2 separate regions of the Homo sapiens genome follow, and region 2 is linked to region 1. Evidence: fine-mapped expression QTL. A gene starts in region 1. The other region holds a variant in brackets. All regions are shown on one strand. Distances are between the middles of the regions. Region 1 holds the start of ZNF576 (zinc finger protein 576). Region 2 holds the start of XRCC1 (X-ray repair cross complementing 1).

Evidence for each region. PIP is the estimated chance that this variant, and not a neighbour inherited with it, causes the effect.
Region 2: its variant is fine-mapped to the expression of ZNF576 in whole blood (TOPMed, PIP 0.93).

What each region holds. Positions count from the first base shown.
Region 1 is chr19:43,587,841-43,603,525 of GRCh38, reverse strand. It overlaps ZNF576 (zinc finger protein 576), which reads right to left and starts at 6,931. Exons shown (of 3, transcript NM_001145347.2): 1 at 6,783-6,931; 2 at 6,333-6,432; 3 at 2,369-4,695. The coding sequence starts at 6,417. The coding sequence ends at 4,268. It overlaps IRGQ (immunity related GTPase Q), which reads left to right and starts at 7,392. Exons shown (of 3, transcript NM_001007561.3): 1 at 7,392-7,544; 2 at 8,186-8,717; 3 at 10,159-15,685. The coding sequence starts at 8,188. The coding sequence ends at 11,500. RefSeq lists enhancers at 6,897-7,316, 7,717-7,786, 7,972-8,768, 13,703-13,792.
Region 2 is chr19:43,567,890-43,583,574 of GRCh38, reverse strand. It overlaps XRCC1 (X-ray repair cross complementing 1), which reads left to right and starts at 8,048. Exons shown (of 17, transcript NM_006297.3): 1 at 8,048-8,167; 2 at 8,573-8,665. The coding sequence starts at 8,117. PINLYP (phospholipase A2 inhibitor and LY6/PLAUR domain containing) reads right to left here and starts at 7,774. Exons shown (of 6, transcript NM_001193621.3): 1 at 6,656-7,774; 2 at 6,314-6,460; 3 at 4,869-4,985; 4 at 2,211-2,363; 5 at 1,872-2,012; 6 at 1,477-1,707. The coding sequence starts at 6,383. The coding sequence ends at 1,574. RefSeq lists enhancers at 3,301-3,360, 6,622-7,147, 7,148-7,674, 7,675-7,834 and a silencer at 7,935-8,094. The variant C/T (reference allele first, on the strand shown) is at 8,040.

The DNA.
Region 1 (15,685 bases):
CCCGGCTAATTTTTGTATTTTTAGTAGAGATGCAGTTTCACCATGTTGGCCAGGCTGGTCTCGAACTCCTGACCTCAAATGATCCGCCCGCCTTGGCCTCCCAGAGTGCTGGGATTACAGGCGTGAGCCACCGTGCCTGGCCAGCATTTACATTTTTGACACCTATTACAGGATTTCAGACCAAAGCATTTTTCAAAACCCACGTTTCTCATCCCAGAATCTCCAAACCTGACATTGATACACTCTGAACTGAGACTTTCCTAGCCACTATAGCTTAGCATCATGGAACCTCAGAATCATCAGCAGAAATTCCAGGCTCATTAAAACAACAGAGTCTTAGTCCGTTTGTGCGGCTGTAACAAAATACCTGAGACTGGGTAATTCATAAAGAGCAAAGGTTAATTCCTCATAGTTCTGGAGAGTGGTTAAGTCCCAGGTCAGGGAACCAGCAGATTTGGTGTCTAATTAAGGGTTGCTCTCTGCTTCCAAGTTGGTGCCTTCTTGCTGCATCCTTACACAGTGGAAGGTGGCAGAAAGGGATGAATGCTGTGTCCTCAGATGGTAGGAGAGATGGAAGGGGAGAAGGCCTAGCTACTTCCCTTGGGTCCTTTTCTAAGGGCACTTATCTTGTTCATGAGGGCAGAGCCCCTGTGACTTAACCATCTCCTAAAGGCCCCATGTCTGAATACTATCACATGGGGTCTTAGGTTCCCAACATATGAATATTAGGGGGACACATACATTCAACTATAGCACATGGATAAGTGTGATCATAGGTTTTGTTTCCTGGAGCAGCACCCCATCCTGTCTTCTGCCATAAGACAGGACTTCTAAGGACAAATATAGAGAATTTCCATCCATTGGCAAATATTCCTAAGGATCACAAGAGGCACTATCAATCAGGAGTTGGGTCATTCAGCCAGCACCCATTCAGGATATGGAGTCAGGCCAGGCATTCCCCAAAGAGGATTTAATACAGGGAATAGTTACACAGGTGTTAGAAGGCTGAAAGTCAGCCAGGCACGGTGGCTCACGCCTGTAATCCTAGCACTTTGGGAGATCGAGGTGGGCGGATTGTTTGAGCCGAGGAGTTCAAGACCAGCCTGAACAACATGGTGAAACTCCATCTCTACAAAAAATTAGCTGTTCATAGTAGTGCACACCTGTAGTCCCAGCTACAGGGAGGGAGGTGGAGGTGGGAGGATCATCTGAGCCTGAGGAGATCAAGGCTGCAGTGAGCCAAGATCTTACCACTGCACTCTATCCTGGGCTACACAGCGAGACCCTGTCTGAAGGGGAAAAAAAAAAAAAAAAAAAAAATGAAGGCCAGGTGCAGTGGCTCACACCTATAATCCCAGCACTTTGGGAGGCCCAGGCGGGCAGATCACTGAAGGCCAGGAGTTTTGAGATCAGCCTGAGCAACATAATGAAACCCCGTCTCTACTAAAAATACAAAAAATTAGCCAGTTATAGTGGTGCACACCTGTAATCCCAGCTACTCGGGAGGCTGGGGCTGGAAAATTGCCTGAATCCAGGAGGCGGAGGCTTCAGTGAGCTGAGATCACACCACTGCACTCCAGCCTGGGAGACAAAGTGAGACTCAAAAAAGAAAAAAGAATTTAAGAGTGCACAGTTTACTAACATGATGGCAATGGTGGTGCAGGTTGGGCCGCAGGAGTCCTGTTGACCCATTTTAAGTTTGAGATCTCCATTTGTTTATTCAAGTGGTTATATCTTATGTCTGGGGTTTGGGCTGCAGATAAAGATGTGGATGTCATCAGTGATGCTATTTAGAGAATCTGTGATGTCTGGAGAGAACAGGAAGCCCAGGGTGTACTTGGGCAGGCTGCTATCTTGGGAGAGCATGTGGGATTAGATACTTAGGTTTGGTTTAGGGGAGCCACTGTGGGGGTAGTGTGACAATATCTGGGTTGGAAACTTCGGAGCATTCACCAGGAGCCAGAGGAAATATCTGGCTCTTCATGAAGTTGGTATCTTGAAAAAAACTGATGGTCTACTAACTCCAACCAGTCTCCCCATAAGTCACCCCAGCAAAGAGATCCAGGGTAGCCCTGCCCCAAAACACACACACACACACATACCCTACCTACCTACCTACCTGGTAAAGATGGTGGTTCCCAGGATGGAAATTTCTGCTTCCAGACTCAGAGTAGGTTGAATGTCTTATTAGACCAGGGGTTGGCAAACTTCTCCTGTAAAGGGCTAGATGGTAACTATTTTAAGTTCTGTAGGCCTTAAAATCTCTGTTGCAACTATGCAGATCTGCTGTTCTAGGCAAAAGCAGCCATCAACGATACATAAGTGAATGAGTATAAAACTGTTCAAATAAAATTTTATTTGCAAAACCAGGCAGCAGGCTAGAGTTGGCCATAGTTTGCAGACCCCTGTCTTAGGCTGTAAATTCTGTTGCATGTGACAGAGACCCAAAATAATGGTGGCTTAAATAAGATAGAAGTTTCTTTCTTAGATAGCAATATGGAAGTGGGCTGGTATGGTGGCTGTGCTCCTTGAAATTGACGAGAGACCCAGGCTCCTATCTTGTTGCTCTGTCTTCCCACGTGTTGCTCTTATCCTTATGGTCTGAGATGGCTGGATACCATTTCCGTATTACAGTTAGGAAGGTGGAAAAAAGGTATGTCCCTTTCTTTTCTTTTTTTTTAAACAGTCTCACTCTGTCACCCAGGCTGAAGTGCAATGGCACGATCTTGGCTCACTGCAACCTGTCTCCCAGGTTCAAGCAATTCTCCTGCCTCAGCCTCCCAAGTAGCTGGGATTACAGGCATATGCCACCACACCCGGCTAATTTTTGTATTTTTGGTAGAGACAGGGTTTCACCATGTTGGCCAGGCTGGTCTCAAACTCCTGACCTCAGGTGATCCACCGGCCTCAGCCTCACAAAGTGCTGGGATTACAGGCGTGAGCCACTGTGCCCAGCCGTCCCTTTCTTAAGCTTGACTGTTCTACCCAGGAATTTAGCCAGAAATCAGTCACAAGGCCACATCTAGCTGCAAAGGAATCTGGGAAATGCAGTCTTTTCAGCTACTGTGTGCCTAGCTAAAAACAGAGACAGTGATCAGTCTACCACATCCACCTCACCTGTGGGCTTTAAAAACATCCCTCAACATAAACAGAGTCTATAAGTATTATATGCAAGGCATCGACCATTGTCTGCAGGTGCAGGGCAGGTAACTAAGGGGGTAAAACTGGCCTGGTGGGACTCATCTCCAGTTGAGGGTGACACCCACTGCTCCCTCCAGCCTGTTGTAACTTCTGTCCTGCCCCTGCTGACAATGTCAGCCTAGGTTGGGCCTTTCAAGAGAGCTGAAAATAGGATCTTAATGGGAAATCTCCCAGTGTTGGCCAAATAAAACCCGAAACAGAAGGTATCTCTGTTTGATTCCAAACCAGTTTCCCCACAAAGCGAGGCCAACTCTGGCCTGAGTTCCCCCACCTGCCCACACCCTTATGTTCTCTGGAAATTCCCACTCAAAAGCCAGAGCTCCCTGTTTAGACATTTTAATATGGATGTTTTCTGTTTTTAGATACTATTCCTGTTAGCTTATTCATACCATTTCACCTACACATATGAAAAAAATATTTCAGGACTAGAATGATATACAAAATTATTTCAACGAGACATAAATTATCGGGGGACTAGTGCCATCTAGTGCCATGGCCCCTCTAAGTGAGGATGGCAGGGGGTGGAAAAGAGACACAAGGACTCCAATTGCTACCCCCACTCAATTGGGGTCCAGCTCCCAACTTTGCTGCCCCATCCCCAAAAGCCCAAGTTGCTCCACATCTGGAACTCACCTGGTGGCATTACAGGCCAGCAACACCTCACCTTTCCTGCCCCCATTCAGGCAAAGGTCCAGGGCAATTTGCTCCCATAGCCCATGGCATCCATCTGGGAAGAATGAAGGGTGATGGCACAATCTGCAGCTAGGTATTTAACTGGGAATAAGGGAGACACAAACCATTTCTCTCCCGCACTCCCTTCCCATTTTTTTTTTTTAACAAAAGATCTCATTATTATCTGATTTCACTGTCTCACGAAGGCCCTGTGTGCTCCAAAGACTGAAGCTCTAAATAAGAATCTTCTGGGTCCTCTTTATTAAGAGCCCTCTGCCTTCCCAGGGGAGGGAAGCAAATCCTTCAGGGCCCCCAGAGTTCCTGCACCCCATATCATGGGTGAGTCCTACCAGCCACAGAGCCACCCGTCACCGTGGAGAGGCTTAAGCTGCACTCAGAGCTCCCCCCGGGCATGCCGAATGTAGTGTTGATGCAGCCCTGCTTCCTGAGCAAAGTCCTGACCGCACTCTGTGCAGGCGAAGGTGCCAGGAGGGGCACGGACCTCATGCATCTGGCGGTGCCGCCTCAGAGAAACAGCCTGCCCAAAGGTCTTGCCACAGTCAGGACAAGGGAAGGTGGGCTGGGCAGTAGTGGTTGCAACCGGCAGGGTGGGCTTGGCGGCTGGACCGTGGCTGCGCTGGTGGGTGATTAGGGCTTTGGAGGAGGGGAAGGAGCGGGCGCAGGTGAAGCAGATGAAGAGGACCCCCTGCAGCTTCTGGGCCACGAAGTCCGCTGGGTGCTCCCGCTTCATGTGACGCTCCTGGAACTTGGAATCTGCGAAGGTGATGAGGCAGCGGGTGCACTTCGGGGCCCCCAGGTGGCCTGAGGAATGTGGGGGAGAGGTCAGGGGAGGCCAGCAGGAGTCTCCAAGACCTCTTCCTGAACCCCAGAATCACACCAACAATTAACATTGAATGTGTTATGTGCTAGGTTCTATGCTAATGCTGGACAACCAAACAGGAGAACTGTTCTTGCACCTATTTTATGGATGAGCAAACTGAGATTCAAAGAGGTTAGGCAAGTTGCCCATAGTCATGAGGCTAGGAAAGGAAATGGTGGAGCCAGGGTTGGAACCCAGAGAGTCAGCCTGCCCAACAGAGGGGTATGGTGATTACAGCACAGCCTTTGGAGCCAGACTGCTTGGGATTGAATCTCACCTCCACCACTTCCTAGGCAATTACACCAGTTTCCTTATCTGGAAAATGGGCTAATAACAGTATCTACTCCATAGGACCGTTGGAAGGAATAAATGAATTGCTGTACAGTCATTTGCAATTATGACTAATGATACAGAGAAATCCAGCCCGACATCCAGGATCTGGCCTGGTACTCACAGCTAGACCTTGGTGTTCTGTTGAACATAAATTTTCACAGAATATCAAGGACAGACAAGGCCACGCTGTGACTAAAATGAATCAAGACAAGACTACATCATCATAATGTCTGAGCACAGACAAAATATGAATACTGTCCAAGCAGAAAAATGACCAAACATCCTCCTATCCTGGCTAATGTGAATGTCTGCTGCTGCTTTATCAGTCAGAGCTTGAGCCTCGCCTCCTTCCTTCCTCCTTCTGGGTAAGATTTATTACGATAGCCAATCATAGAATTGCCCCTGCTTCCTGGTAGCATCCAATCCAGAGCAAAACAATTTTGCTTGAACCTTCCCCAAAATCACCACCCACAAGCCCAAATCCTGTGTCGTTTTTACCATTCTTAGTGAGACACCCCACAGTCCCCCCATGGTCTGTGTTCATTGCAGTGAGAAACCCAACGTGTTCAACTGCAGGTGTGTTCCTGGTAGTCTCTGGCTCAAGGGCATTGAGACTACAGCTCTTGTTACAAATACCTCTCTCTGCCTCAGTTCCCAGTTTAAAGGGCCTATTATTAGAAGGACTCAATGAGATAATGAATGTTAAAATGGTTCATAATATGAGAATAAATACACCTAGCTCATAATAAAACACTGAGCAGGAGGTGTTGCTATTACATGTCAAACTGGCTACCATCATTAACCCCTAGCTTTCCCCTTTGCTGCAGTTAATCCCATACCCACCCTGTGAGGTGGGAAGTACCACCCTCTTTTGACAGTCAAGGAAACCAAGGCCCAAGTTACACTGAAAGTCTAGGGCAGAGTTGGGACCAGAATCTTGGGGTTTCTCTCCCAATAGAACCATTCCCAGCCACATCTCCAACCCAAGCCTCTCCTGGAAGCCACCCTATCCCTCTGAATGCATAAGCATTGCAATCCTGCTTATGTGGCCAGAGGAGGGTGAGTACTCTGGCCACATAAGCTGGTGTGAGGAGATGCACTTCCTGCTAGAGCAGCTCAGGGACCATTACAGCCCCTTCTCAACAGGCAAAACTCTGTGGCGCCTTGGACACCGAAGTGCCACAGAGATCTTAGCATCAGCTCCTGCACCCCACCCTCCTCTAGCCCGCCAGCCATGTGTACTCACAGATGTTGCCTCCTGGGCTCTGGGGACTTCTCTCCTTGGGTGAATCCTGCTGCTTCATGTTCTCTTCAGGGTTCGGGTCCTCCATGGTGCTGGGACCCTTCTAGTCAGGAGAGGAGCGTGCATAAGTGAAGCTGTTCATCTGTTACCAGTCTTAGAGGGCACCCTAAGTCTATGACCTTTGACATCGCCAGAGGCTCTCCTTGCCTGCCTTTGACCCCTACGACATACTATCTCCTTGAACTCTAATTGATGGAGTTCTTGCTAAAAGAAGCTTCAAACCTCCCAAAGGACTGGATTTCCTGGGTTTGGGACTCCCCTAGAGTCTTCTCACTGGTGTGACCTATGACCTGCTGCATCAAACTAACTCCCTGAACTCAGCGTGGAAGCCTTGATCTTTGACACCAGCGTCATCCCAATCTCAAGTGTCTTGGGGCAGGTAGTGATACCCACCCTTTATCCCAGTTCTTCCCGGGAAACATCCTCTGACATCCTGTGATTTTTGTTCCGCCCAGAGCCCCCGCCTCCCACGCGCGCTTGCAGCTGCTATCCCGCTACCCTCAAGCGCTGCCTACAGGTTCCTGCTCCCAGGCCTCAGTTTTCCTCCTTACAGCAGAGGGCTGCCTTTCGCTGCGCCTGTCAGCCGCTGGCTACAGCGCCGCCCCAGAGAGAAGTGGGATAGGGACCACTCAGTCTCAGGGCCCCCGTGGTTTCCGCGCCCTTTTGCCAGATGAGCCTCTCGGAGCCGAGATCCCGGATTTGCCATCCGGCAGTAGTATAGTCGCACCAGCCCGGTCCTCAAAATAACGGGAGGGGTCCTTCTCTGCCCTATGGCGCGTTTGATGACGTTCAGCCTCCCGCGGCTTAGCTAGCTAAGCCTTTTGCGCATGCGTGGGTAGGCTCTCGTGGCGCGCAGGCGCGTTGACTCATTCATTGTTCTAGGCCCTGAGGCCGCCAAAGAGGGGCGTGCACACTTCGGCCGTTCTGCGCAGGCGCGGCGAAGGGCTGGGTCTCTGCTGTCGGCCTTCCAAGACACACCCCCTTGGGAGAGGGAGTGACGTCAGGTTAAAGCTACCGGGACGGGTCCCGGCATCTCTAAATCACCGCTCCCTGGCCTCTTCGGCCTCCGTCCGCCGCGGCCCAGGGGCCGGGCTTCTCAGCTGCTGACCTACTGCCACCGACTGCGCTCTCTCCCGTGGGTCGGCTTTTTGCTCGGTTGGTGATTTGGAAGGGGGAAGGGGAAAGATGAAAATAACAATGTGTCCGAGGGAGGAGGGACTGGAAGCCAGATTTCTGAGGTTTTATTTTTATTTATTTTTCAGAGAGGGTCTTGCTCTGTCGCCTGGGCTGGAGTGCGGTGGTGTGATCACGGCCCACTGCAGCCTCCAAGTCCTGGGCTCAAGCGATCCTCCCGCCGCAGCCTTCCGAGTAGCTGGGGCTACAGGCGCACACCACCATGCCCGGCTAAATTTTATTTTTTATCGAGACGGAGACTCTACCAGAGAGTCCCCCCACATGTTGGCCAGGCTGGTCTCGAATTCCTGGCCTCAAGCGATCCTCCGGCCTCGGCCTCCCAAAGCACTGGGATTACAGGCATGAGCCACCGCGCCTGATTTCAGAGTTTTTGAAGCAGAAAGGGAAACGTTTCCATCTAGAGGGAGGGCGGACAGACAGGACGCCTGGGATTCTGGGGGAATAGGGTCTGGGCTCTGGATTTTTTAGGTCCTGGAGAGTGACACTCAAGAACCGAAGGGGACAGGGTGAAGGACTGAGGCCTGGGTTCCGAGTGGGGCGGCTAGGAAAGGAAAAGGCTAGGTGCTCCCTGACCCAGGTCTTCTCTACCCGTTGCTTTCCAGCCATGCCTCCGCCGCAGGGTGACGTGACCGCCTTGTTCCTGGGGCCTCCGGGCTTGGGGAAGTCCGCGCTGATCGCAGCGCTGTGCGACAAGGATGTGGAGACGCTCGAGGCCCCCGAGGGACGGCCGGACTCCGGGGTTCCCAGCCTAAGAGCTGCGGGCCCAGGCCTTTTTCTGGGCGAGCTGAGCTGCCCACCCGCAGCGCCGGGGCCCTGGGCGGCGGAAGCCAACGTGCTGGTACTGGTGCTGCCCGGACCCGAGGGGAACGGGGAACCGTTGGCTCCAGCCCTGGGAGAGGCAGCGCTGGCCGCCCTGGCCCGAGGGACCCCGCTACTGGCTGTGCGGAACCTCCGTCCTGGGGATTCACAGACTGCCGCCCAGGCCCGTGATCAGACAGCAGCTCTGCTGAACAGCGCGGGGTTAGGAGCTGCGGATCTGTTTGTGCTACCGGCGAACTGCGGCAGCAGCGACGGCTGCGAGGAGCTAGAGCGCCTCCGGGCGGCGCTGCAGAGCCAGGCAGAAGCGCTGCGGAGGTGAGTGCCGGCTTTCTGGCTGGGTCCGTTAGTCGAGACCCTAGGCACCTAGGTGCGACCATGGAGGTCCATGAGATCCCTCCCCCAGTGAGTTTGGGGCAAGGCTTAGCTCTATTATTATTATTTTTTTTTTTTTCCTGAGAGACAGGGTCTCGCTATGTTGGCTAGGTTGAATTTGAACTCCTGGCCTTAAGCAATACTCCCGCCTCAGCCTCCCAAAGTGCTAGGATTACAGGCGTGAACCACCACACCCGGCCTTTTTTTTTGAGACAGGTTCTCACTCTGTCGCCCAGGCTGGAGTGCAGTGCCGCGATCCTAGCTCACTGACGGCCTCCACCTCCTGGGCTCAAATGATCCTCCTGCCTCAGCCTCCAGAGTAGCTAATACTACAGGCTGCAAAACAGCATCTCACTGTTTCCCCAGGCTGGTCTTGAACTCTTGGCCTCAAGCCATGCCCCCACCCAGGCTTCCCAAAGCCCTAGAATTAAAAGGGAAAGGCTTAACACTTTATCTGCTGGGGCCCTGAGGCTCCTTTTTCCAGGCCCTGCCCCCACCAAGGTGATCCACCCTCCTTGGCCTCCCAAAGTGCTGGGATTACAGTCGTGAGACTCTCTGCCCAGCCCCCTGGAAGATTTTACCTGAAAACTCTAATCTTTGAGCCCTCCCCACCATCAGTTTTGTTTTCAAGCACCTAAAGCCACACCCGCAATGAGCTTTATTATTTTGGGGCATCCTCATCTACCTCCTTTCTCCAGCTCCCTCTTGTTTCTGTGCCCACTTGCTGGCTACCTCCTGGATTTGCTCTACCACCTGCCAGCCTCCTCATTTTAAAGACTTTAAAACGAGGCTCAGAGAGGGACAGTCCCTTGTCCCAGTACACTGTCATCTTTTTTCCTTAGCCTCACCTGCCCGGGAGTCACCTTAGCCACTCCCCCTTGGTAAGAACTGGTAGATGAGATTTCTCCCCTCACTGACCCTCCTTAGGCCCAGCCCCTGAAAAGAGTGCCCTTGGGGACCTTGTCTCAAATAGTGCTGGACTTGTGTTTAGGCCACAATACAGTTGCGATTCTTTGTTCTAGGCCCCACCCTCTGTGAGCTTTGTCCCACCCAGCACAGCCGACCCTTGGAAAAACCCCGCCCCCAAATACTGTATTCCATGGAAGTTTTAGCCCAATCCCCATTTTAGGCTGGGGTGGGAAACCTGACCTTATGTCCACCCGTCCAATAATCAAGACTCCATTATTGCTTGAAGCCCCACCCATATCATCACTGCCTCTCCCTATCTGGTTTCTATTTGCTGTGCCATCAGTCTGGCCCTTCCCTTTCCTACCCCTGCCCCATTCTGGGATCATTAGGAAAGCTCTGCCCTTGTCATCATAGCCCAGTCCATGTCACCCAGCCCCTCTTCTACCTTTGACCCTGTCCCTTCTTGTCCCCACAGGCTCCTGCCACCGGCGCAGGATGGCTTCGAGGTGTTGGGTGCAGCAGAGCTAGAGGCTGTGCGTGAGGCCTTTGAGACCGGCGGCCTTGAGGCTGCGCTGTCGTGGGTGCGCTCAGGCCTGGAGCGCCTGGGCAGCGCACGGCTAGACCTGGCCGTGGCTGGCAAGGCTGACGTGGGCCTTGTGGTGGACATGCTGCTTGGATTGGATCCTGGCGACCCAGGCGCTGCGCCTGCTTCGGTCCCCACAGCACCCACTCCCTTCCCAGCCCCAGAGCGCCCGAATGTGGTGCTCTGGACCGTGCCTCTGGGCCACACGGGCACTGCCACCACCGCGGCCGCCGCCTCTCACCCAACGCACTACGACGCCCTCATCCTCGTCACCCCTGGGGCCCCCACTGAGAAGGACTGGGCCCAGGTCCAGGCCTTGCTGCTACCAGATGCGCCTCTTGTCTGCGTGCGCACAGACGGCGAGGGCGAGGATCCGGAGTGTCTGGGAGAAGGCAAGATGGAGAATCCCAAGGGCGAGAGCTTAAAGAACGCAGGTGGAGGGGGATTGGAGAATGCACTCAGTAAGGGAAGGGAGAAATGTAGCGCTGGATCGCAGAAAGCAGGCAGCGGGGAAGGTCCTGGGAAAGCTGGCAGCGAGGGTTTGCAGCAGGTTGTCGGCATGAAGAAATCAGGTGGTGGCGACTCAGAGCGGGCCGCTGCGTTAAGCCCGGAGGACGAGACGTGGGAGGTGCTGGAGGAGGCGCCGCCGCCAGTGTTCCCCCTACGGCCTGGCGGACTCCCAGGGCTATGCGAATGGCTGCGGCGAGCGCTCCCCCCAGCCCAGGCAGGGGCACTGCTGCTGGCGTTGCCACCAGCATCTCCCAGCGCTGCCCGAACCAAGGCTGCGGCGTTGCGAGCCGGGGCGTGGAGGCCAGCTCTGCTGGCTAGTCTGGCGGCGGCGGCGGCACCACTCCCAGGGCTGGGCTGGGCATGCGACGTGGCACTTCTGCGGGGTCAGCTGGCGGAGTGGCGACGGGGCCTGGGGCTGGAACCCACGGCACTGGCTCGACGTGAGCGTGCCCTGGGCCTGGCTTCTGGAGAGCTGGCAGCGCGCGCTCATTTCCCAGGCCCGGTGACGCGCGCCGAGGTGGAAGCAAGACTGGGCGCCTGGGCGGGCGAGGGCACTGCTGGGGGCGCAGCACTGGGGGCTCTCTCCTTCCTGTGGCCTGCGGGTGGTGCAGCGGCGACAGGTGGCCTGGGCTACCGAGCGGCTCACGGCGTCCTGCTGCAGGCTCTCGATGAGATGCGGGCTGATGCTGAGGCTGTGCTGGCACCCCCTGAGCCTGCCCAGTGAGGAGTGGGAGGGGGCTTGGGAGTCCAGACTCTGACAGGGGATGCCTGGGCTTAATCCTGGGTGCTTGAAGGGGATGTGGACTCTTGACTTCCAGCTGGGATGTGTGACTTCTTATCACCTGGATTCAGAGAGTCTGGGGGACAGGAATCCTGATTTTTTTTTTTTTTTTTCTTTTTTTTGTGAGACGAAGTCTCTTGTTGCCCAGGCTGGAGTGCAATGGCGCGACCTCGGCTCACTGCAACCTCCGCCTCCCGGGTTCAAGCGATTCTCCTGCCTCAGCGTCCGGAGTAGCTGGGATTACAGGTGCCTGCCACCACACCTGGCTAATTTTTGTATTTTTAGTAGAGACGGGGTTTCACCATGTTGGCCAGGCTGGCCTCGAACTCCTGACCTCAGGCGATCGACCCGCTCCGGCCTCCCAAAGTGCTAGGATTACAGGCGTGAGCCACCGCCCCTGGCCAGGAATCCTGATACCTTTGGGAACCATGGTGAATGACATCTAGACCCTTCTGTCCTGAAGGGAGTTGGTGGCCCAGACTCTAGCAGGGACTATGTCTTTGTCTCCTAGGGAGTAGAAACTGGAGTTACTGGATGTTTAGTCCTCCAGGGAGGCTGGTAGAAGTCCTGTTTCCTAATTGGTGGGGAGGTGTCCATGACTGGGACCTGAACTCCAGTATAGGGGAGGGAGACCTGAGCGCCCCAGGGAGCTGGAACTCTTGGGCTTCAGAGCCTCAGAGGGAAACAGGGTCTACATTTCTCTGGGAGAAAAAGCCTGCACACAGGTCCCCAAGGAGCAGTGGGCTTTGAATCTTGATGGGGTGGCGGAGGCCCCTGGGGTCTGAGACTTCCGGGGTTCTAAGATGGCTGTGGACCTTGGTTCCTAAATATTGGGTAAGGGGAGGTCTGCATCTGGAGGAGGGATCGGGGGCTTGTGCGAGAAAGCTGGAGACTTCTTGATCTCTCCTGGGGAGTGGATGGGTTTCTATAATTGCCCTCCAAAAGCATGTAGGGAGGGTGGTCCCACAAAAATGAGGTGAGGTGGGTAAGAGGTCTGGGCATGGTGGGCTCTGGGAGTAGCCAGGGACCAGGAATGAGGTCTTTTGGGTGTGGAAGGGCAGTAAAGCATACCTCAGAGACAGCTCCTCCAAACCTTGTATTGGGATCCCGGCAACTGCCTCTGTGAGTGTGACTGGGAAGGGATATGACTGCCTTCATCTTCTAGGTGCTGAGCAATTCAGGTGATCTCTGGGGAGTCTGTTTCTCTGTCTCTTTTCTTTAGGAGTTTCTATCTTTTTTTGGCCTTTTTCTCCTGGTATTTAACCATAACCCTTTATGGCCTTGGTGTTTTGTGCACCTTCCTTTTCAGAAGAGCAGCTGTACTGCTGCACTGGTCCAAACACTTCTGTATGGACACCTCGGGTATCCCCAAGAGGCTCTGCTTTCTGATGTACATAGAGGGTGCTGCATTGAGCCAGGGGCCCACCAAATGGGTGGTCAGGCACTTGAGACCATGGGAATATGCCAGGAGTGAATGAAGCAAAGGCAGAAACCACAGTGCCTGGAATGTTCTAGGCTGCTAGCCACATGTGGGGGAAAAGTTGCAGGTTACAGAATTCTTCAGTGTCAAAAACAGAAAAGGAGGATCTGAGAATCCAAGCGATAGAATCCCTTTTGTCGTAGACAGAAAGAGCAAAGTCCAGAGAGGGCAGGCTTGAGGCCCAACAGCACACAGTAAGGCCCTGTGGGTCTGGCCCTTGCCTATTCTCATTCACTGCCCCTTCCCACTCCTGTCCAGCCTGATAGACTTTCCTTCTTTTTTTTTTTGAAATGGAGTCTCACCTTGTCACCCAGTCTGGAGTACAGGGATGTGATGACTGTAGCTGAGATGACAGGCATGTGCCACCACACCTGGCTAATTTTTGTAGTTTAGTAGAGAAGGGATTTCACCCTGTTGGTCAGGCTGGTCTCGAACTCCTGACCTCAGGTGATCCACCCGACTCAGACTCCCAAAGTGCTGGGATTACAGGTGTGAGCCATCATGGCCGCCTGACTCTTTCTGATGCCTGAGTGGCTACCTTGAGTCCTGCCTGGGGACCCATGCACCTGCTGTTCTCTTTCCTTCAAGGCTCTACTCACAACTTCCTGTTCTACTCTCAAACCTTCCTGTGACGGGCTCAGTCAGATCTCAGCTCACGTATCCCCTCAGAGAGGACTTCCCCTCCCTGACCACCCTATCTGAAGTAGCTCACATTCCCCCACTATTCATTTCGGCCAGTTGAGTTTCCTTGTAGCAATTATTACTGTCAAAAATGATCTTATTTATTTACCTGTTTATTGGCTTTTGACCCGTTGCCTGTCCTGTTCTCTGTTGTTTCCCCAGCATCTAGAACAATAGGTGCCTGACACAATAGGTGCTTCGTAAATATTTATTATTATTATTATTATTTTAGAGACAGGGTCTTGCTCTGTTGCCCCGGCTGGAATACAGTGGGATGATCATGGCTCACTGCCATCTCCAACTCCTGGGCTCAAACGATCCTCCCACCTCCGCCTACAGAGTAGCTGGGACTATAGGTACACAGCACCAAATTTTCTGTAGAGACGGGGGTCTTGCTTTGTAGCCCACACTAGTGTTGAACTCCTGGCCTCAAGTGATCCTCCTGCCTTGATGGGATTACAGGTGTGAGCCACCACACCCAGCCTAAATGTTTATTTCATTGGTCAGTGTCAGAACTAGGATTGGAATTTAGATTGTTAATCTCTTGCCACAAGATAGGAAAATGGAGCAAGATGAGGAGAAAAAAGCATTTAATGGGAGAGAACACCCTTGTCTGAGGTCAGGGACCTGGGAAGCAAGCACGACTTTGCCACTGTCACTGTGTGTTACTTGGACAGTGCCTTATTTTCCCATCTGTGAAATAAAAGAGCTGGATAAGAACCTTAGTTTTGAGATCCTGTCTCCCTTAAAAGCTGAAGACAAAGGTAACTGATCCAAGGGCAGACAAGGGATGGTACCATCATCTCCAGCTTGGACTCCCACTGCTGACAAAATTTGTCCCTTCAAAGTTGAGATAGCTACCATGGGGAAGAGCACTTAGTTCTATACTGAATGGCTCCAGGCATTTTCATGAAAGCTCTTTCAGCTTTGGGGAAGAATATTCATCCATATCTTTACCCCATCATATTAGTGTCTAAGCCCTGCAATCAGGCATGTCAGCCACGTGATGGAATGGGAGGGCTGCAGGGCAGCACTGTCCAGTAGAAACGAAATGCAAGCCACATATGTCATTTTAAGTTTTCTTTTTTTGAGATGGAGTTTCACTCCATCACCCAGGCTGGAGTGCAGTGGCACGATCTCGCCTCACTGCAACCTCCGCCTCCCAGGTTCATGTGATTCTCCTGCCTCAGCCTCCTGAGTAGCTGGGATTACAGGCATATGCCACCATGCCTGGCTAATTTTTGTATTTTTAGTAGAGATGGGGTTTCACCATGTTGATCAGGCTGGTCTGGAACTACTGACCTCAGGCCACCCGCCTTGGCCTCCCAAAGTGCTGGGATTACAGGCATGAGCCACCGCGCCCAGCTAATTTTTGTATTTTTATTTTATTTATTTATTTATTTTTTGGGAGACGGAGTCTTGCTCTGTCACCCAGGCTGGAGTGCAGTTGTGCGATCTTGGCTCACTGCAACCTCAGCCTCCCAAGTAGCTGGGATTACAGGCATGCACCATCATGCCCAGCTAATTTTTGTATTTTTAGTAGAGATGGGGTTTCACTGTGTTGGCCAGGCTGGTCTTGAACTCCTGACCTCAGGTGATCCACCGGCCTCAGCCTCCCAAAGTGCTGGGATTATAGGCGTGAGCCACTGCACCCGTCCTAATTTTTGTATTTTTAGTAGAGATGGGGTTTCACCATGTTGGCTAAGCTGGTCTGGAACTCATGGCCTCAAGTTATCTGCCCACCTCAGCCTCCCAAAGTGCTGAGTAAGCCAAGTTTTCTAATAGCCACATTAGACAAGTAAAAGGAAACAGGTTAAATTCATTTTAACATGTTTTACTTAACCCAATGTATCCAAAATAGCATTTCAACATGTCATCGGTTTTTTAGTTTTTTTTTTTTTTGAGATAGTGCTTCGCTTTGTTGCCCAGGCTGGAGTGCAGTGGCACAATCTCGGCTCACTGCAACC
Region 2 (15,685 bases), 20 kb after region 1:
GAGGGAGCTGCTGATCCCAGAAAATTGTGGAATCTCATGGAAGAGACCTGAATCCTCCCGAACTGGAGCCAAAGCAGCCATCCCACAAACCCTTAGAAGAATGCTTGTTGGTATAAGTCTCAGTTTTCATGTTGGGAGGCCGAGGTGGGTGGATCACTTGAACCCAGGAGTTTGAGACCAGCCTGGGTAACATGGGGAAACCCTGTCTCTACAAAAAAATTACAGGAAATAGCTGGGCATGGTGGCGCATGCCTGTAGTCCCAGCTACCAGGGAGGCTGAGCGGGGAGGATCGATTCAGCCCATGAGGTTGAGGCTGCAGTGAACTGTGATGGTTTCACTGCACTCCAGCCTGGGAGACAGAGTAAGACTCTGTCTCAAAAAAAAAAAAAAAAAAAAGAAGTCTCAGTTTTAGGATGATTTGTTACATAGCATTATTACAGTGTTAGTTAATACAACTTTGTTGTTTTAAACCACTGAGATCAGGGACTTGTTTTGTTACTGTAACATCTAGTCTGTCCCAATTGATGTCAGTGTTTAGCACCTGTCAACTAATGGCCACTCAGTAAGTGGCAGCTATTATGATGATTACTGTTTACTCAGGCATACATTGTCTTTAGAATCCACATGTGGTGCTAGGCATTGCACTAAGCGCTTTTTAAGTTGTCTTTCATTTGACTCTTACAACAACCTTATGAGGTTATAACTATTAATATCTACATTTTGCAGACATGAACACTGAGGCAAAAAGAGGAAGCAGTTAATTGAGAGAGATGATCATGGACTCTGAAGTATACCAGACTCGGGTTCAAATCAAGGTTCTGACCCTCCCTGGTTGTTTGACCCAAGGCAAATTTTGACACCCACAATCTATGCCTCAGTTTGTTCATCTGTAGAGTGGGGATAATAATATCAACCTCACAGTTGTTATGATCATGAAATGAGGTATAGCATGGAAAACACAGCACAGGGACCTGGCAAAGACTAATCCCTTCATAAAAGGCAGGGCCACCAGGCATGGTAGCTCACACCTGTCATCCCAGCACTTTGGGAGGCCAAGGATCGCTTGAGCCCAGGAGTTCAAGACCAGCCTGGGCAATGTGGTGAAACCCTGTTGCTACAAAAAAATTAAAAAATTAGCCAGTCATGGTGGTGCACGCTTGTAGTCCCAGCTACTAGGGAGGCCGAGGTGGGAGAATCACCGAGCATGGTGGTGCATGCCTGTAGTGCCAGCTACTAGGGAGGCTGACGTGAGAGAATCACCTGAGCCCGGGAGGTCGAGGCTGCAGTGAGCCTTGAATGCACCACTGCACTTCAGCCTGGGTGGCAGAGTGAGACCCTGTCTGAAAAAGAAAGAAAGAAAGAAGGCAGGGCCTTCCCTCTCTTCCTCAAAAGGAGGGGATTTGAAATGAGGATTGAGACCCCCTATTTCCTGCATTCTATCTCATCAAGATACATCACACCACAAGGACTCAGGCTTGCTCTATTAACTTCTTTATAGGCACACGGGGAGTTACAGGCTGAGGACAAATGGGGACTTCACACTACATTATCTTCCTCTGTTCAGATAGCTTTTCAGGGGGAGTGAGTGCACTCTATATGATGGAGGAAGAGGACATTGGTGCCTGTGGGTACTTCAGCACCAGGCTTGGTAAAGCACATACTCTCTGTAGCACAGCCCCGCATAGCAAATCTGGGTTTGAAAATACCTGAAAGGGAGATTTCAGACTGGAATCAGGGACCTCAGCCCCTTCTTCCTCATAATCCCAGAACACATCCTCACCCACTTCTCTGGAACCCTCTCCTCCCATCGAACCTAGAAGTTTGGACCTCTAGTTCTGTTTCCTTTTCCAGAGATTCAGGCACCACTCACCAGCCTGCACGTGTCCAGATAAGGAGACGCAGTGGTTTTCCTTTCCAGTACAGTGGGTCATGGGCCCCATGCATTTGTCCCTGAAGCTCGCAGTGCAGGCGGGGCACATCAGGCCATTCTCAGTAAGATTGGTCAAGGGAACTGAGGATGAGGATGAAGTGTAAGGTGAATAGGGATGTTTAAGCCGTTCCCCCAACCTCCCAACAACCCCGGGAAACACCAGGGTTGCTAATAGACACTGCATTTTACAGGTAAGGAAACAGGCTCAGAGCCAGCAAGTGGCTACAGCAAGGGTCAGTGGAGAGCCAGAGCACACACCACACACCACGGGCTTCTTACCAGACAAAAAGGCACTGTTGCAGCCGTCGCTCTGGCAGCAGAAGGAGCTGGTTACCATGTGGTCCTTGGGGCCCATGGTGGTGGATATAACGCCGGAGTAGCAGTCCTGGGACCTGATGCAGCCCTTGTAGGTGTGCACCAACTCCTTGCCCTCTGTGGGATGGGGACAGGCAGGGACAGTGCTGGCTGACCACTCCCTGGCTTCAACCCCTGCCTCAAGGTCTTGCCTAACCCTAGGCCTCCCCAACCCCACAACTTCCTGGGATGGTCTCTTTCTTTTTTTTCTTTCTTTTCTTATTTTTTTTAGACGGAGTTGCCCAGGCTGGAGTGCAATGGCGCGATCTTGGCTCACTGCAACCTCCACCTCCCGAGTAGCTGCGATCACAGGCGACCGCCACCATGCCCGGCTATTTTTTTGTATTTTTAATAGAGACGGGGTTTCACCATGTTGGCCAGGCTGGTCTCCAACTCCTGACCTCAGGTGATCCGCCCGCCTCGGCCTCCCAAAGTGCTGGGATTACAGGCGGGAGCCACTGCGCCAGCCCGGCCGGGGCGGTCTCTTTCAAGCCCCCTAGAGCCATGCGGCCAAATCTGTCTGGTGCATGGCCTGGAGTGCTTTCTTAGGTAGCCCTCCCTCCCGCTGCCATAGCCCCTAGTCGGCCTTTGGTGGTCTCTTCCAGCTCCCCATTGCCAACCTCAGCCTGCTGGATGTGGTCCCTTCCACCCCACCCCACCCCACCCACGGCCACCCCTCTCTCCCTGTCCTTCCGGGATTACTCTATTTCAGGCCGCCTATGGCCACCCCCATGCCTTCGTGAAATGGTCTCTTCCAGCCTCCTCAACTCCCCGCCAACCCCCGCCCACCCCGTAGTCTCTTCCAATGAACCCCGGTCCCAGCAACAGGCATCCTCCTCTCTCAGATCCTGCCATGGTCACTCCTCAGACCTCCCAACGAGGGTCTCTTGCTGCCCCTCTTGGCTATTTTCAGGTCTTGTTTAAGGTGGGTTCTTCCAGTCTCCCCGGCCTTCCCCCTCCCCACCATGTGGTGGTCTCTTCCTACCCAATTCACAGGTTCCCCCTTCACTCCATCGAGGGGTCCCCCAGCTCTCTCTCCTCCCTTCCCGAGGGTGCGTTTCCTCTTCTATGCCGGGATGGGGGTTCTCTTCAAGCCTTTCAGGTCCTTCCTTAACCCACCAACGCTGGCTGGGTGATTTTCGATCTCACTTTCCTTTCACAGCCTCTCCCGACCAGTGTTTTCTCCCTGCACCCAAAGTCGCCTTTATTCCCTCACCAGGCCTCATCATCTCTCCTCCTGTGATTGAAAGTCTCTTTCAGCTTTGTATAAACATCTCTGTCCCCCACTGGTCTCTTCCATTGCTCCCTTTCTCCTCCATCATTTTTCAGGTCTGGGGTGGTCTCTTTCATTTAACTCATGCCCATCTTCTCTCTTCCATTTTATTTTCTGAGACAGGTTTCCCTCTGTTGCCCAGGCTGGAGTGCAGCGGTGTGCACTTAGCTCGCTGCAGCCTCGATCTCCTAAGCTCAAGTGATCCTCCTGCCTCAGCCTCCCAAGTGGCTGGGACTACAGGCATGTGCCACCATGCGCAACTATTTTTTTTTTTTTTTTTCTGTAGAGATGGATCTCTTTTTGTTGTCCAGGCTGGTCTCAAACTCCTGGGCTCAAACGATCCTCCCACCTCAACCTCCCAAAGTGCTGGGATTACAGGCGTGAACCACCGTGCCCGGCCTCCCTTTCATTTTACTCATCCACATCTCCCCCTCCCTGTCTCTGCTTCTCCTCTTTACGATGATTTGCTCAGCCAGGCACGGTAGCTCATGCCTGTAATCCCAGCACTTTGGGAGGTCGAGGCGGGAGAATCACTTGAGGTCAGGAGTTAGAGACCAGCCTGGCCAACATGGCGAAACCCCGTCTCTACTAAAAAATACAAAAATTAGCCAGGTGTGGTGGCACGCACCTGTAATTCCAGCTACTCGGGAGGCTGAGGCAGGAGAATCGCTTGAACCTGGGAAGTGGAGGTTGCAGTGAGCAGAGATCGCGCCATTGCACTCCATCCTGGGTGACAGAGCGAGACTCTGTCTCAAAAAAGAAAAAAAATGATTTGCTCCATACTTCAAGGTTATCATCCATCTCCTGTTTGGGGTGATCCCTTTTCTGTCTCTTCCACCACTCCAACACTCCACCATCATCTCTCCTCCCTCGGTCAGGAATGACCTCTTCCCTGATTACACTTACACTTTCCCACCCCAGCCCAGCCTCTTCCTTCTCTATCCACTCCCCACCATTTCCACCTCCTGCCAGTTAGATTCTTCCCCTCTCACTATTTCTCTGCCCCCCACAGTGTCTTTCCTTACCCCTCTTCTGCCTAAGAAAGTCTATTAACTCTCACCCCTCCCACATTTTCCTTCTCTTTAGGACAGTGTCATTTTCAGAATTCTGTGACAATAATGATTTCTATCACACCACTTATTTCTGTTCCCTCCATCTCATGATGGTCTTTCCCTCTTTCCTGCTCTCCACTGATTTCTTCCCACGCTCCCGTCTTGAGAACCATGATGATCCCCCCTCAGCATGGTAGTCTCTTCCACCCTGAAGGTACACCCCACCTCCCCACCAGGTCCCAGGCCACATCCTCTTACTTGAAGTAGCCTTCCCGACCAGGAGCACACATGTGTCCTTGTCACTGCTGCAGGTCTTCATTTGGCCATGGCACCTGCTCCCCGCCGCCGTACATATTTCGCAGTGTAGTGGGCACCCTGCAGTGTAGACAGAGGGCGAGGCTGTAGTCATGGGTGGTGTGGTCTTCGGACCACGACTTTGACTTAGGACTTTTGTGTCCTGAGAGAGGAGGGACCAGCAGCTCCCTGGTTTTTCATGGGCGGGATGTTGACCACTGCCCAAGGAACTGTCCAGAGTTGGACGAAGAAGCAGTGGTGATGCCAGCAAAGCTGCTTCCAGGGGCGGGAAGCGACTCCACCATGAAGCCTGTTTGCCTAATTACATGGCTGGGGATTTTGGATGCCAGGGTCCGCTGAGAAAGCTCAGGGGCAGGGAGGGGTCGTGATGGAGGTTTCCATGGACTTTTGTGAAACTTCAGGTCCAGCTGGTTCTTGAATGTGGGATTCTCCTCCTTGAAGGTGCCATGTAGGTCTTGTAGACAGCAGGAGCTCAGGCAGGGGGCCCTGAGGCTAGGGTCTGCATCCCAGGTCAAGGAGGGAGAGTGAGGACCAGGAGGGCAGAGGACTTGAACTTCTTGGTTCTGAGAGAGGGGACAGCTAGGGGCCCAGAAACCTGGGTCCTGGGGAAAGTGAGGCTTACTTGGACTCCTGTGTGCAGGGGAGGAGGGGGCTGGGGCCTGAACTTCTTAGTCTAAGGAGAAAGGAAATCTCTCTACCTCTTTTAAAAAAATATATCATATGATATTAATGTATTTTTTTTGAGATGGAGTTTTGCTCTGTCACCCAGGCTGGGGAGTGCAGTGGCACGATCTTGGCTCACTGCAACCTTTGCCTCCCAGTTTCAAGCAATCCTCTCACCTCAGCCTCCCAAGTAGCTAGGATTACAGGCGCCCACCACCAAGCTCAGCTAACTTTTTTTGTATTTTTAGTAAAGACGGGGTTTCACCATGTTGGCCAGGCTGGTCTTGAACTCCTGACCTCAAGTGATCCACCTGCCTCGGCCTCTTAAAGTGCTGGGGTTACAGGCATGAGCCACCGCACCTGGCCTTCTCCCTCTTTTTTTTTTTTTAATTATATTTTTAAAGATTTCCCTTTCCAGCCATGCTCTCATCTGATTTCCTAGAATTGAGATGTGTTTGGGATCCTTCCTGGAGGATGGAGGATTCAGAGCCCACCAAGCCCCTCTCTCAGGGATCCAATCACAGGAGCTTTTCTTCTCTGGGACCCCCAGGCTTTCTCTTCCTTTACCCTTGGCCTCTTCCATGAATCTGAATTTCCAGAATGCCTCCCCGTTCACCTTGAGGACTTGCTGAAGGCTCTTTCTCTCTCTATATCTCTCTCTCTCTCAATCTGGGACCTCTCTCTTCCTGAGGTCCCAGAGACAGTTCAGGTCCCTTGTCACTTACCAAGACCCAGGAGGGTGCAGAGCAACACAAAGGCCAGCAGAAAGGTCTCTGGTCTCCTGGAGAGCCTCATGGTGTGTGTATCAGCAGTACCTGGTCCCCAGCTTTTATAGGAAGCTGAGGAGGGGTGGGTCTGGACCCACATTCACCCTACGGGGAGAAATAGCTGAGGTCAGAACCCAGGGCAGTCCTCTGTGGCCTCCGGGTTGGGAAGGCAGAACCAGAATCCAAAAGTGACCTGGGCATCTTGTGCCCAGCCCCCCACCTCCATGGAGACCCCAGGAGTCTGGGCTTCCATCCCCCTCTTCTATTAGAACCCAGAAAGTCACCACCCTGTTTTCTCACCTTCCCACGGCCCATTGTTGTTTGTTTGTTTGCTTGAAGACCAAGACGGAGTTGGGCCTCTTGATTCCCAGTGGCTGCAAGAACTGGGATTCCCTCTCCTTCTCTCTCTTCCCCTCTCCTCCCAAGGAAGCACCCAGTGTGGGTAGGGCCCCACCTTGGAGCACCCAGCATGTCCAGGCTGGTCCTGCGGGTGCGGGGTGCCTTGTCTCCCTTCCCCTCTCTTCATGTGCTCGGCTCACACTCCTTGTGTGTTTGGGCTGTCTCCAGCTGCGACCCCACCCAGGGCTGCACCCTTGGGTCTCCAAGGCACCGAATGAACAGAGGGATGTCTGTCGGCAGTCATAGGCGGGCGTAGTAAAAGACAGATGCCCACAGTCCACATATTGGGAAACTGAGGCTTTTGTGGAAGAACTCCAGGATAGGGGTGTGTGTGTGTGTGTGTGGTGGGGGTTGGGCACATGCTTTGTGTTATATTTAGGACGCAGAACCCTTCTCTTTTGGCCTCAGGCATAAGGCTGAAAGAGATCTGCTAATTTTTTTCGCGCGTGCGCGCGCGCGTATGTATGTATATGTGCGTGTGTGTGTGTGTGGCAAGGGGACAGAGAGAAGAGTGCAGCCGCCTGAGCCATTTGAAGAGATCCTGTTGCGTAGAATCCAGGTTCCCTACGAAACTACGAAAATTCACTCAGATTTGCTGTCCTAGCCCAGCGCAGTCGCTCACGCCTGTAGTTCCAGCACTTTGAGAGGCCGAGGCAGGTGGATCGCTTGAGCTGAGGAGTTCGAGACCAGTCTGGGCAACATGGCAAGACCCGCCGCCCTCTCACCCCATGTCTCCACAAAAAATACAAAAATTAGCCGAATGTGGTGGCGCGTGCGTGTAATCCCAGCTACTTAGGAGGCTGAAGTGGGAGGATCCCTTGGCCCCAGGAGACAGGGGTTGCAGAAAGCCGAGATCGTGCCACTGCACTCCATCCTGGGTGAGAGAGCAAGACCCTGTCTCAACAAAAAATTTTTAAAAAATAAAATAAATAATAATACAGCAAAAAGATTTGCTTTCTCGGCTTCAGTGTGGGCGGTAACTCCATCGTGCAATGAGAAAGGCGAATTTCTTCCAGACACCAATCCCGGAGGTCGCTTCTGTTGCTAGGCTCCCAGAAAGCAGGGTTCGGACGTCATTGGGAGGCGAGGCTAGAGCGGGGTTGTGTGTGGCGGAGGGAGGCGGGGCTGGAGGAAACGCTCGTTGCTAAGGAACGCAGCGCTCTTCCCGCTCTGGAGAGGCGCGACTGGGCTTGCGCAGTGTCGACGCCGGCGCCGGCGCGCCGGGGTTTGAAAGGCCCGAGCCTCGCGCGCTTGCGCACTTTAGCCAGCGCAGGGCGCACCCCGC[C/T]CCCTCCCACTCTCCCTGCCCCTCGGACCCCATACTCTACCTCATCCTTCTGGCCAGGCGAAGCCCACGACGTTGACATGCCGGAGATCCGCCTCCGCCATGTCGTGTCCTGCAGCAGCCAGGACTCGGTGAGGGACCTGCATGGGGGAGGTTGGAAGACGTGAGGGAATTAATGAGGATAGCTCTTAAAAGAGCTTTTGGGGTTCTCTTGGAAGTCTAAGGAGAGTCATGGGGGGATTTCCAGGAGGCTAAAAGTGAATTGTGGAGAGATGTTGAATTAGGGACGTTCCGGCGTCTAGGGAACTTCCGGAGAGAAAAGGAGGAATAGGGAAGCTTTCTTGGAGAGCCCATAGGTGAACTTCCACGGGAAAGTGTTGTAGGGGAAACTCCAGGCAGAGTGTCGGGGGATTAACGGGAGAGCTTAAATCTGGGGGTCGTAGAGGCCTTGGGAGGACTCAAAGGAATCATCTGAGAGCTGGAGGCCTAGCTGTCATCTCTGTGCCCTAATTCTCCTCTCCCACTGTTGTTTCCAGACTCACTGTGCAGAAAATCTTCTCAAGGCAGACACTTACCGAAAATGGCGGGCAGCCAAGGCAGGCGAGAAGACCATCTCTGTGGTCCTACAGGTGATCCTGCCACCCCACCTCCTCCTCACTAGGAGTCTGGAGTCCGGGGTTCCAGATTCTGCTCCTGAGCCAACTGGCAGTGGGTTTAGTCACTTTCTTTGCTGGGCCTCAGCTTCCTTACTCGGAAAATGGGCAGCATAATCCCTGTGCCCCTCAGCAGAGAGGAAAGGAGACCCAAGGATTAAGTCCAGGATGACCACAGGAATCAGTGTGTGGTCCTGGGCAGGTGGCATCTACTTTCTGGGTTCCAGTTTCCTCAGCTGGAACAAAATGAATCATTGCCACGTACTCTGCCTCCTGCAGCCAGTGGGCTCAGGGCTGGAAGGTGTCCAGGAAGGTCGTCTAAGCCAATCAACTCCACTTTAAAGAAGGGGAAACTGGCCGGATGCCGTGGCTCATGCCTGTAAACCCAGCACTTTCAGAGCCTGAGATGGGAGGATTGCTTGAGCTCAGGAGTTCCAGACCAGCCTGGGCAACATATCAAGACCCTGTCTCTATTTTTATTAAAATAAATAATTTTTTTTAAAGAATAATAGCCAGGTATGGTGGTTCACACCTGTAATCCCATCACTTTGGGAGGCCGAAGCTGGAGTATTGCATGAGCCCAGGAGTTTGAGACCAGCCTGGGCAATACAGTAAGATGTCATCTCTACCAAAATTTTATAGATTAGCTGAGTATGGTGGTGTGCACCTGCAATCCCAGCTACTGGCGAGTCTGAGGTGAGAGAATTGCTTGAGCCCAGGAGATGGAGGCTGCAGTGAGCTGAGATTGTGCCACTGCACTCCAGCCTGGGCACCAGAGTGAGACCCCCAAAATATAAAAAATAAAATAATAATAATGAGAGCTGGCATTATTCAACGTTACCTGTCAGTCGCTGCTCTACACACCTCACTCACATGGATTAGCTCATTGAGTCCTCATAAAAAACCCCAAGAGGCAGGCTCTGTTATCCCCACTTTTACAGATGAGGAAACTGAGGCCCAAAGAAGTTATACAATTTGCCTGACAGTCAATCTTTTATTTATCTGTTGAGACAGAGTCTCACTCTGTTCCCAGGCTGTAGTGCAGTGGCATGATCTTGGCTTGGCTCACTGCAGCCTCTACCTCCTGGGCTCAAGCGATCCTCCCACCTCAGCCTCCTGAGTAGCTGGGACTGCAGGTGTGCACCACCATGCCTGGCTAGTTTTTTTTGTATTTTTTTAGAGATGGGGTTTCCACCATGTTGCCAGGCTGGTCTCAAACTCCTGGGCTCAAGCGTTCCTCCTGCTTCAGCCTCCCAAAGTGCTCGGATGACAGGCATGAACCATTGTTCCTGGCCTGGGGGCTGCTTTATGACTATAAGGAGCAGAACACTCTGTGGATAGTGCTAGGGTGACGGAAAAATTAACCTTTTGTGAATGGGCAGTCATTCAGCAAATATCCACTCCTCTCCCTCCCACTGGAGGGGGAGTATATTTCCCTGCTCCATTGATGAGTTTGACCATATGATTTACTTAATGGAATTTCAGCACATCTAACTTCAGCAAGGGCCTTAAATGCACTTGGCTTTTGTGCTCCCATAATATGCCATGAGAACATTTGCCAGGTTACTGCTAATCCCAGAAAACTGTGGAATCTCATGGAAGAGACCTGAATCCTCCCAAACTGCAGCCAAAGCAGCCATCCCACAAATTCTTATAAGAATGCTTGTTGGTATAAGTCTCAGTTTTCATGTTGGGAGGTCGAGGTGGGTGAATCGCTTGAACCCAGGAGTTTGAGACCAGCCTGGGTAACATGGGGAAACCCTATCTCTACGAAAAATTATAAAAAATAGCTGGGCTTGGTGGCGTATGCCTGTAGTCCCAGCTACCAGGGAGGCTGAGCGGGGAGGATTGATTGAGCCCATAAGGTTGAAGCTGCAGTGAACTGTGATGGTTTCACTGCACTCCGGCCTGTGAGACAGAGTGAGACTGTATCTCAAAAAAAAAAAAAAAAAAAAAAAGAAAAGATCTCAGTTTTAGGATGATTTGTTACACAGCATTATTACAGTGTAAGTTAATACAACTTGGTTGTTTTAAACCACTGAGATTAGGGACTCCTTTGTTACTGTAACATCATCTGGTCCACCCCAATTGATGTCAGTGTTTAGTGCCTGTCAACTAATGGCCTCCACTTCCCAGGTTCAAATGATTCTCATGCCTCAGCCTTCTGAGTAGTTGGAATTTACATGCCTGGCTAATTTTTGTATTTATAATAGAGACCGAGTTTTGCCATGTTGGCTAGGCTGGTCTTGAACTCCTGACCTCAGGAGTTCAAGGCAAATGAGCACCAAATGCTAATTTAAGTGATCCACCCACCTTGGCCTCCCAAAATGTTGGGATTACAGGCATGAGCCACTGCACCTGACCTCAGTCTTTTAAACTGTGATAGATACAGATTGCTGACAGTTTTAGTCTTGAGATCTAGATTCAAGCCCCCAGCTCTTCCTCTTAATCGGTGACCTCAAGAAAATTGTTTCATTTCTCTAACCTGTTTTCTCATGTGTCCATTGGGAATAATGACATCCAAGCCCGGAGTTGTGAAAATTCGGTGACATAATGTCTGCACAAGTGCTCTGTCAACATGTAGGTGTTTGTGTAGAGGGAGGGATTTGTGTTTTTATTACTTAGTGGGTGATGATTCCACTGGGCTCTCTTATGATCAAGTGACTCCAGGGAAATCACATTTCATTCTGTTACCCCAGTTGCTGTGGAAACAGAGTGACTGGAGGCAGAAGAGACAGAACCTGTCTCTGGCCTGGGAGAGACTGAGGGAGTATTGCAGCGGTCACCAACATGGTAAACCCCAGAGGGAGCAGCTTGGGGAGGTGATGTGTTTCAGTTGGGATGTCCAGGTTTGATGTGACTTTGGGACATTCTAGGGGTGGCATCCAGGAGGCAGTTGGGGATCACATGTGGAGCTGAAGACAGAATGTGGGGAAGTTGTCAGTGCAGAGAAAGAACCTATAGACTCGGGAGTAGATGATGGATTTATTTGTTCATTCACTCATTTATTTAGTCAAGTATTTATTAAGTGCCTTCTGTAGGCCAAGCACTGTTTTAATACAGCAGTACACAGCAGAAGACAAAAAATATTCACTCTCAGTGGGGTGCAGTAAGCTCACGCCTATAATCCCAGCACTTTGGGAGGCCAAGGCCTGGCAGTTCGAGACCAGCTTGGGCAACACAGGGAAACTTCATCTCTACTAAAAATACAAAAATCTGCCAAGCGTGGTGGCCTATGCCTGTGGTCCCAGCTACTCCAGAGGCTGAGGCGGGAGGATCACTTGAGCCTGGAAGATCAAGGCTGTAGTGAGCTATGATCGCACCATTGCGCTCCAGCCTGGGCAACAGAATGAGATGCTGTCTCTTAAAAACAAAAGAAATTCAGTCTTGTGGAGCTTTCACGTTAGTAGGGAAAGACTGACAAATGAGTCAGTGAAACATATGTTGGATGATGAGTGCTATGGAGGAACTTAATGAAGGGGAATGAGAGTGCCCCAGCTGGAGCTGGAGCAGTGGCAAGGATTTTTATTTAAATAGTAGGGTCCGGGAAGGCCTCCCTGAAAAGGGGACATTTGAGCAACATGAGCTATGTATGTATCTAGGGAAAAGACTCTGAAGCTGGCTTGTGACAGCAAGGAGGCCAGTATGGCTGGGGTGGAGTCAGCCAGGGGGAGAGAGGTAGGAGATGAGGTAACAGGGTGGGACTGGGAACCCCTAAAAAACCACTTAAGGCCTGGAAAGCCATTGAAAGGACTTGAGCTTTTACTCCAGGTGTGAGATAGGAGCCACCGGAGGGCTCCGAGCAGAGGAGGGACAGGATCTGCCTTAGGCCTTCACAGGATCCTGCTGGCTCCATGTTGACAATCAACTGCAGGGGCCACACACAGGAGTGGGAGATCAGCATTGCAGCAGTTGTTTTGTTAACTTACTCCACGTCAGAGACCCTTTGGAATGACTGATTGCATCTGGCAATGACTAATTTGTGGGGTTACTCTGGATTCATCAAATGCTAATTTTGATTCTTTTGACGTAACTGATAAAGGCAGACATTTCTGGCCACCAAGGCAGTAGGCTTATCTCTGGGTTGTTATGTTATGTTTTGAGACAGGGTCTCACTCTCTTGCCCAGGTTGGAGTGCAGTTGCAAAGTCATGGCTCACTGTAGCCTCAACCTCCTGGGCTCAGGCAATCCTCCCACCTCAGCCTCCCAGATAGCTGGGACTACAGGCGTGTGCCGCCAGGCCCAGCTAATTTTAAAAATTTTTCGTAGAGATGGGGTCTCACTATGTTGCCCAGCCTGGTCTCGGACTCCTGAGCTCAAGCAGTCCTCCTGTCTTGGCCTCCCAAAGTGCTGGCATTACAGGCATGAGCCACTGCACCTGGCCACATCTGTGGGTTCTTCTACTACCCTGCATTTTCTCCTCTAATTATTGTTATGCAAAATCTCGATCTTACCACATGGGGCTTAGCCATCTGCTTATGACAGCCCCACACACCTGGTTGTTTGCAGTAGCCACAGCAGGCTCTGTTGTCTGTTCATCACCTGCTCCCAGAGGGAAATGCCAACCTCTTTGCTAACTACTCCTGGGCTGGAGGGGTGGCTTGGACAAGACCCAGATATAACTCTGGTGTGTCACTGGAGGTGTGTCATTTTTAGAAGAAATGTTCATCAGCAATAGGGCCTATGGTCATTTTTGATTGTTATTGGTTTTCTAATCACTCAGTTCGCCACTGTGGTGTCTTAAATTTGTTTTTACTGTTTTTTGATGTGTAACATACATAGAGTGAAGTGAAGGTGTAAGTAAGAGTACAGCTCAGTGACTCTTTGCAAACTGCAGCCCTGTGTACTCCACACCCAGATGCAGCACAGAACATGCCTAGCCCCCAGCAGTTCCCTCAGGTTCTTTCTGTCAGTACCCCTGCAAGGGTAACCACTGTCCTGATTGTTAACAGCATAGATTCATTTTGCCTGATTTTGAATTGCATATAAAATGGAATCGTGTGGTATAAACTTTTCTTATCTGGCTTCCCTTGTTATGTTTGTTCATTTCATCTATGTCGTTCAGTGTAGCTGTAGATGATTTATTGTGATTTTTTTTTTTTCTGAGACGGAGTTTCGTCTTGTTGTTCTGGCTGGAGTGCAATGGCACAATCTCAGCTCACTGCAACCTCCGCCTCCCAGGTTCAAGTGGTTCTCTTGCCTCAGCCTCCCAAGTAGCTGGGATTACAGGCATGCACCACCACGCCTGGCTAATTTTTTGTATTTAGTAGAGACAGGTTTTCACCATGTTGGTCAGGCTGGTCTCGAACTCCTGACCTCTAGTGATCCACCTGCCTTGGCCTCCCAAAGTGCTGGGATTACAGGCATGAGCCACTGTGCTCGACTCCTATTGTCTTTTTTTTTTTTTTTTGAGACAGGGTCTCACTATGTTGCCCAGGCTGGAGTGCAGTGGCACCATCTCAGCTCACTACAGGCTCGACCTCCCGGGCTCAAGCGATCCTCCCACCTCAGCCTCCTCAGTAGTTGGGACTACAGGCATGTGCCAGTTCACCAGTCTAATTTTTGTATTTTTTTTGCAGAGATGGGGGTCTCACTGTGTTGTCTAGGCTGGTCTTGAACTCCTGGACTCAAGCATTCCTCCTGCCTCAGCTTCTTAAATCCTTGGGATTACAGACATGAGCCACTGCACCTGGCCTATTGTCATTTCTGTATAGTATTCTGTTGTATTGAGATAACTATTATGGTTTTATTTATTTATATTTGATTTTCTTTTTTAAACGGAGTCTCACTATGTTGCCAAGGCTGGTCTTGAACTGTTGATCTCAGGTGATCCCCCAACTTGGCCTCCTGAGTAGCTAGGACTATAGGTGCACACCACCACACCCAACTAATTTTTTTTTTTTTTTTTAAGCTTTTTGGAGGCAGCTTCCTGAGTAGCTGGGATTACAGGGATTACAGACAGAGCCACAAAGACCTGGCCATTGGGGTTTTATTATATTTGCTTTCTGAATGGGTATTATATGCATATAGTGCAAAATTCAAAAGGTGCAAAAGGGTATACACTAAAAAGAAAATCTCCCCTCACCCTTTCCATCCCTCCCTGCTCCCTCCCCAACTCCTGCTCCCTCCCCAACTCCTGCTCCCTCATTCTTCTCTCCTGATGCAACCACCATTAGCAGTTTTTTTGGGTGGTCTTCCTGGGTCATTCTGTACACATACAAGCATATATACCTACCGCCTCCATCCCTTTTTAAAAAATTCATAGTATATACACTGTTCCCTTGTGTGTTTTTTTTCAAGTAACAGTGTATTTTGGAGATGCACACTGCATGAAGTTCTACCTTATTTATTTATTTATTTATTTACTTACTTACTTACTTACTTACTTTGAGACAGAATCTCGCTCTGTCACTCAGGCTGGAGTGTAGTAGTGCGATCGTGGCTCACTGCAACCTCCCCCTCCCAGCTTCAAGTGATTCTCCTGCCTCAATCTCCCTAGTAGCTGGGATTACGGGCACATGCCACCAGGCTTGGCTAATTTTTGTATTTTTGGTAGAGATGGGGTTTCCCCATGTTAGCCAGGCTGGTCTTGAATTCCTGACCTCAAGTGATCCTCCTGCCTTGGCCTCCCAAAGTGTTGGGATTACAGGCGTCAGCCACGCCGTGCGCAGCCTACCTTATTCTTTTAAATGATGCATACAATTGCATTTCATGGCCGGGCGCGGTGGCTCACGCCTGTAATCCCAGCACTTTGGGAGGCTGAGGCAGGTGGATCACGAGGTCAGGTGTTCAAGACCAGCCTGGCCAAGATGGTGGAACCCTGTCTCTACTAAAAATATAAAAATTAGCCAGGTGCAGTGGTGGGCACCTGTAATCCCAGCTACCTGGGAGGCTGAGGCAGGAGAATTGTTTGAACCCGGGAGGCGGAGGTTGCAGAGAGCCGAGATCGTGCCACTGTACTCTAGCCTGGGTGACAGAGCAAGACTCTGTCTCAAA